2 linked regions of the Homo sapiens genome follow. The protein of the gene in region 1 purifies or fractionates together with the protein of each later gene. This does not show direct contact. Each region holds a gene or a part of one and is shown on either strand. Other genes may lie near its edges.

Region 1 (3,653 bases):
TTATGATCTCCTAATTTAATGCTCCTCAAACATTAACAACAAAGTACCCCTGTAGACATCAGAAAGTGAATACAAAACCCAGAGGTAGCTGGGGGGCTTTGGGGAGGGAGCACTATGAGCTTGAAATTCCTTTGGTAGTTTTGTGCTTGTCCTAAATCATTCAAATTATTACATTCTACTTTATCTCTACCTGTTTGTATAATATATTTTCCTACCCCATCCAAATCAAGTAAAACTGATAGTGAAGAAAAATGTGCTAATTTAATTCTATGGCTTTACATAAGCTGATGTGAAAGCGGTTAGAATCAAAATAGAGATGCTTGTGTTAAAAACTGACATATATGGCCGAGCACAGTGACTCATGACTATAATCCCAGTGCTTTGGGAGGCTGAGGTGGGAGGATTGCTGGAAGCCAGAGTTCCAGACTAACCTGGGCAACAAGGCGCAAGACCCAGTCTCTACAAAAAATAAGAAAAAGTTAGGTTTGGTGTTGTGAACCTGTAGTCTTAGCTACTTGGGAGGCTGAGGTGGGAGGATCTCTTGAGCAAAGGAGTTCGAGGCTGTGGTGAGCTATGATCACGCCAGTGCACTCCAGCCTGGGTGACAGGGTGAGACCCTATCTCAAAAAATAAAACAAAACTCTGACAAATAGAGCCAGGGAAGGCCATGAAGGGAAGGTTCTAATGCATAAACGTCTGATAACAAGAACTATCACAACAGATTTTACAAAACCCATGACCTTGCACAAGGGCCCTGGCAAGCTTACATAAAAATATACTTCTGCAAAGACATCTGCTCATCAACTGCCTGCCCAACCTCGGCGTGGTGCCACCCTTACTAATCCTTGTAGCCAAGGATAACTGATTCAAAAAAAGTATGTAATCTTCCTCATTTCTCCTTAAAAACCTCAGGCTGGGTGCAGTGGCTTATGTGTGTAATCCTTGCACTTGGAGAAGCTGAGGGAGGTGGACCACTTGAGCTCAGGAGTTTGAGGCCAGCCTGGGCAACATGGCAAAACCCTGTCTCTACCAAAAATTCAAAAGAGTGGCCGGGCATGGTGGTGTGCGCCTGTGGTACAAAGCTACTTGGGAGGCTGAGGCAGGAGGATTTCCTGAGCCTGGGAGGTGGATATTGCAGTGAGCCAAGATCGGGCCACTGCACTCCAGACAATGAGACTCCATCTCAAAAACAAAAACAAAACAACAAAAAACCTTTGTTCCTTTTATTTTACAGACCCTGTCTATTGGTTAGGTTGATACCAGTTTGAACTTTTTGTTCAGTCATTCTAAAATACTGGTTGTGCTATGCCATCCTTTTGATCAAATCCCCCAAAACGACCAGCTATTACCCATTCCATTAGATAAGGTTCTGCGCAGAATGGCATCTCCCTGGACAAATCATGTGACGTCTTCTATGATGTGGCCCAAGCCGCTGATGAAAACGAAACTCTCCTCTATTCTTCTGCCTAAACCCTCCACTCTGGCCTGCATGGCCTGTACGCCATCCTCCACACAAAGGAACAGGCTAACTGCCTGGGTCCTTCAATACCCACAGACAAGGAATAGTAAGTGTTGTAATGAGCAGTTGGGGATCCTCTTGCCATTTCTCTCCACCTATTCAAATTCAACCCACCTTTCCAGGCCCAGGACCTCCATGAAGCCTTCCCTGGGAATTGGAATCCACAGTTTCACCTACTTTGCTGCAACCTGCTTCAATCCTCCTTCAGAGAAAACTGCACACTCTCATCTCCATTTCCTTCCTGAGCCCTCAGGCCTTAAGTCTGAGCTTCCCACTCTCCTCAAAGTGCTCCAAGGTGAGCAACCTTGGGTCAAAATCCATGGCCTTTTCCCAATTCATCCTCACTTCAGTGTCTAATACCATGAACTTCTTTGCCTTCTTGACATACTTTCCTCCCTTGTACCTCAAAATACCGCACAAGGTTCCCTAATTGTCTGACAATTCCTTCTGTCAGAAATTCCATCTTCTTGCCTCAAGTCCTAAGTAGAGGTGTTTTCCAGGTCTGTTCTCTGCCTCTCATTTCTCCATCCTCTCTCCCACATGATTTTAAACACAGACTCCAAACAGGGACTCCTCAATCTGCACCTCCAGCTCTGACCTTCCCTGGGTTTTGCTTTGCCAACTGCCCAATCAGCATCTAGATCTGGATTGACTATTTCAACACACATTAAACCCTTCTTTCAGTAACTTGTTTTACTAGAAAAAGTAGTCATTCTAAGTTCTTATATCCCTTTCCACCATAGAGAACTGGGCAGAATTAGGAAAAAACAATATCTAAGGAATCTGGAGGGCCCTTCTCTATCAGACAAGGTCCTTCAATCTCCAGAAAATCACCACAATAATAATTTTATTCTTGCCACTTTGTTATTTCTGGATGTAAAAGGAGGTGCCTTTTTCCCTTCTCTGTGCCAAAGGACAATATTGTTCAGGCTTCTAAGTTCCCCTGGCACCCAACAGCTTTATTTCTGTCTCCAGGGAGTGTTATACCCAAGGTTGTGCTGACCTCTTAACACATCTTCATTCCACTCAGCACCAAACCCGAGTTCTTGTCAGCATTTTAATGGTATGTCCAATTTCTCTCCCATAGGTCTTTTTCTTGAGACAGTCTTGCTCAGTCACCCAGGCTGAAGTGCAATGGCATGATCTCAGCTCATTGCAACCTCCACCTCCCAGGTTCAAGTGATTCTTCTGCCTCAGCCTCCTGAGTAGCTGGGATTACAGGCATGTGCCACCATGCCTGGCTAATTTTGTATTTTTTTGTAGAGACAGGGCTTTGCCATATTGGTGAGGCTGGTTTTGAATTCCTTGCCTCGTCTCGGCCTTCCAAATTGCTGGGATCACAGCTGTGAGCCACCACGCCCGGCTTCCCATAGATCTTTGATATTTTCATGACATATTCCTTCATGTTTATTCCAATAGTTCTCTTTTTCTTTTTTTTTTTTTTTTTTTTTATTGAAACAGGGTCTCACTCTCACTCAGGCTGTAGTACAGTGGTGTAATCACAGCTCACTGCAACCTCAACCTCTTAGACTCAAGTGATCCTCCCACCTCAGCCTCCTGAGTAGCTGGAACTACGGGCATGCACCACCACATCCAGCCAATTTTTAAATTTTTGGTAGAGACAGGATCTCACTATGTTGCCCAAGCTGGTCTCAAACTCCTGGCCTCAAGCAATCCTCCTGCCTCAGCCTCCCAAAGTCTGGGATTACAGGCATGGGCCACTGTGTCCAGCCCATTCCAATACTTTAACATGTATGCAGGGATCAACATTTTTCAGAATACACACATTTATTATGCTTACTACAGTTCTATGAAGTAGGCAGAACAAGTATTATTCACAAATCACAGATGAGGAAACAGGTACAGAAAAGGTAAAGGAATGCCTTGAAGTCACAGAACAAGTAGCTAATTTATGACAGAATTCAGTCCCCAACTGGTTATTCTAATTCCTTATCTAGTGCTGTGTAACCCTCACGATACAGTCTTAGGTGTCCTCTTCTCTCTTATTCCACCCTTAACCTTTCCCTCTGCTTTGCTTCTTACCTTTCATTTTCCCAGCCAGCTCATATATTTTTCTTGGCTCAGCGGATCGCTTTTCCAGAGCTGTAAATAAACCACCTCTGCCCCAGTGGCC
Region 2 (3,653 bases), on another chromosome or scaffold:
ACAGAATGGGAGAAAATTTTTGCAATCTACTCATCTGACAAAGGGCTAATATTCAGAATCTACAAAGAACTTAAATTTACAAGAAAAAATCAAACAACCCCATCAAAAAGTGGGCAAAGGATATGAACAGACACTTCTCAAAAGAAGACATTTATGCAGCCAACAGACACATGAAAAAATGCTCATCATCACTGGCCATCAGAGAAATGAAATCAAAACCACAAGGAGATACCATGTCACACCAGTTAGAATGGAGATCATCAAAAAGTCAGGAAACAACAGGTGCTGGAGAGGATGTGGAGAAATAGGAACACTTTTACACTGCTGGTGGGACTTTAACTAGTTCAACCATTGTGGAAGACAGTGTGGCGATTCCTCAAGGATCTAGAACCAGAAATACCATTTGACCCAGCCATCCCATTACTGGGGATATACCCAAAGGATTATAAATCATGCTACTATAAAGACACATGCACATGTTATGTTTATTGCGGCACTATTCACAATAGCAAAGACTTGGAACCAACCCAAATGATAGACTGGATTAAGAAAATGTGGCACATATACACCATGGAATACTATGCAGCCATAAAAAAGGATGAGTTCATGTCCTTTGTAGGGACATGGATGAAGCTGGAAACCATCATTCTCAGCAAACTATCGCAAGGACAGAAAACCAAACACTGCATGTTCTCACTCATAGGTGGGAATTGAACAATGAGAACGCTTGGACACAGGAAGGGGAACATCACACATCGGGGCCTGTTGTGGGGTGGGGGGGACGGGGGAGGGATAGCATTAGGAGATACACCTAATGTAAATGACCAGTTAATGGGTGCAGCACATCAACATGGCACATGGATATATATATATATATATATATGTAACCTGCACGTTGTGCACATGTATCCTAGAACTTAAAAGTATTAAAAAAAAGAAAAAAATTGTTTGCCCCTTGTTCTTTCCCTGCAAAACCCCAATCCCGAATTGGTCTAACCACTCATTTTTCTATGGTTAAGCCCAGACTACAGATTGCTGTGGGAAAATAACTTTGAAGAGACTGGTCTCATTTTCAGTTCATGGCATTCATCTTCAAAGGCTCCTCCCCCTGGAGCTCCCAGTCAGGCTCTCTCCTTTCATTTCCACCAATGGCAGTTTCATCTCCTTATTCAAGTGTCTCACACTGCTACTGTCAGCCAAAAAGCCATTATTATGAATTCCTTCAATTTTCTGACAGCACTTTCCCCTCCAGTTGTATCTGGATTCATCAATGGTTCTTAATTTTGCCTCCACAGGACCACCCTTCACCTCTCCTGTAACTTCTCCTTTCCCACCAAATTGCTTTCTCCCCTCCACCCCTACTACCCATTAAAAATACTTTCTCACCTACTCCCATTTACCTACTATTTTCCTTCCAAAGACAGCTGCTTGAAACAGAAGTTACTTTGTTCATTTTCCTCACTATTCATTAATAACTCTTGCTTTTACCACCCTATGTCATCGTCTCCTAATTGCAGACTCCAAAACAGGTCAGTTCCTTCTCACCTGACCTCTCCATGTTATTAATCCCTTTAAAAAATTTACATGAAGGTATTCACAAAAATCCTTCTAATGGACAGAACTAATTTCTCTTTGACTTCCTCTCCACTCCACACTGTCATTTTAATGATGATATAACTGGGTGTCCTGCCTCTCTCATCTCATCCTTTGCTATTGCATTGTTCTTAATGTTTCTAGGATAACTTTTAAAAATAAAAATATGATTGCGTTATGCCCCTGCTAAATCTCAATAATCTACATAGCCTCTGAATTCCTCATTTATTTCAGGAAGAAACTCAAACTCTAACATGGCATATTTAAGATCTGCAAAACTCTAATATTTTCTCCTAACTTCTGTGAGGACTTCTTTCCAATCCTAGTCTTGAGACATGTTGAACTAATACTATTCCTTTCAATTATTGTTTTGGTTAATGTGTTATTGTTCCTCAACTGTATAGAATGGGTGATGCTCCACTAGGAAATTCAGTTAAGAGCTCTTCCAAGATGCTTTTCCAGATTCCCCCAGCCTCAAGTAGGGTGCTTGTTCTGTGGCACTGCAGTACCTTCCATATTCTAACACAGCCCTCGCTTACAATATTTTAATTACTAAAATATTTATCTCTTTCCATCCCACTAGACTGTAAGCTCCTCTTGAAAGCTAAGTAATGGCTTCTCTGGTTCCACCTGTAACATTAAAAAAAATTTTTTTTTGGTAGAGACGGGATCTCACTATGCTGCCCAGGTTGGTCTTGAACTCCTGGCCTCAAGCAGTCCTCCTGCCTCAGCCTATCAAAGTGTTGGGATTACAGGCGTGAGCCACCACATCTAGCTTCTACCTGTAACATTTAGCCCAGTGCCTGAAATGTAGTAGAGAATCAATGAATGGTGAATGAATGAACAAAATAATAATCAATGTCCTTTAAAAAAGCACAGACTATTTCACTTTTGGTACATTCCAAATTGTAATTTTATTTTACCCCAACAGACAAGTTTCTAAAATTTCCATAGAATCCCTATGGAATCATATTCAAGACAAGGCCACTTTATTTCCTGAGAAGTATTAGAAATATTAGAAAGACGCTGCAGAAGTCTGAGTTAAGAACCTAATCTATAACAGCTCATTTATCACACTAAGAAGAGAATAAGACGGTTCATGAGATTCTGCTTCTTTAAACTAACATAAACTAAGGATACATCAATAGAAACAACCTACAGATCAGAAAAAGTTTCCTATGTGGTTTGGAATGTGTCACTTTAATTTTATTCACTCTAACTTTATTCATTTTAATGTTGTTTATAAAATAACTCTATTAGGACAGAGACTTTGACTATTTTAAGTGGTATCCCAGCACCTGTAAGGAGATCTGGCATATAGTAGTTCAATAAATCTTTCTTCAATAAGTGAATGCACGTAAGTATTTAGCTTCAAATTCAGAGATAAGTGAAAGAATTTTTCTAGCAAAAGCAAAATAATCTAAACATTTGTCTAATTACCTTTTTGCAAATCTGTTTCATTGTGACTTCTTCCAAGTTAGCACTGGCCAGTAATTTCTTTATTGTTTCCTTTAACTCTTCATCTGTAGGGGGTTTCTTCAACTTTTTAATTAAAGGTTCATCATCTGAACTATCCTCAGACTCACTTTCTAAAAGTAATATAATAATAATAATTTTTCTTACATAGTAAATTAACATTTAACAAAGGCTGAGATGAATTTTAAGCTTTCAACAGATTCTCAAAGGGGTACTGGATCAAAAAAATTATAAATCACTACTCTACAGTTACCTATAAAACATGCATACAAATTTTAGTCAATTTGAAAAATCAAAAACTATAAAAAACTGGTATACAGGTTAGGCATCCCTAATCCAAAAATCCAAAACCTGAAATGTTCCAAAATCCAGCTTTTCAGAGCACCAACATGACACCACCAGGAGGTAATTCCATACCCGACCTCGTGTGACGGGTCGCAGTCAAAACTTGGTTTCAGGCCAAGGGCAGTGGTCCAAGCCTGTAAACCCAGTGCTCTGGGGGGCCAAGATAGGAGACTCGCTTGAGTCCAGCAGTTCAAGGCTACAGTGAGCTGTAACGGCACCACTGCAATAAATAATTTATT

Evidence for each region. The genes of interacting proteins can lie anywhere in the genome.
Region 2: the proteins of CHD1L (region 1) and DEK purify together in Homo sapiens (affinity purification with mass spectrometry, with the first as the bait; one large-scale study listed by BioGRID). This does not show direct contact.

What each region holds. Positions count from the first base shown.
Region 1 is NC_000001.11:147,287,643-147,291,295, reverse strand, and holds part of CHD1L (chromodomain-helicase-DNA-binding protein 1-like), read right to left. Parts: coding exon 3,563-3,653; intron 1-3,562. UniProt on the Homo sapiens protein: ATP-dependent chromatin remodeler that mediates chromatin-remodeling following DNA damage.
Region 2 is NC_000006.12:18,233,419-18,237,071, forward strand, and holds part of DEK (protein DEK), read right to left. Parts: intron 3,183-3,653; coding exon 3,034-3,182; intron 1-3,033. UniProt on the Homo sapiens protein: Involved in chromatin organization.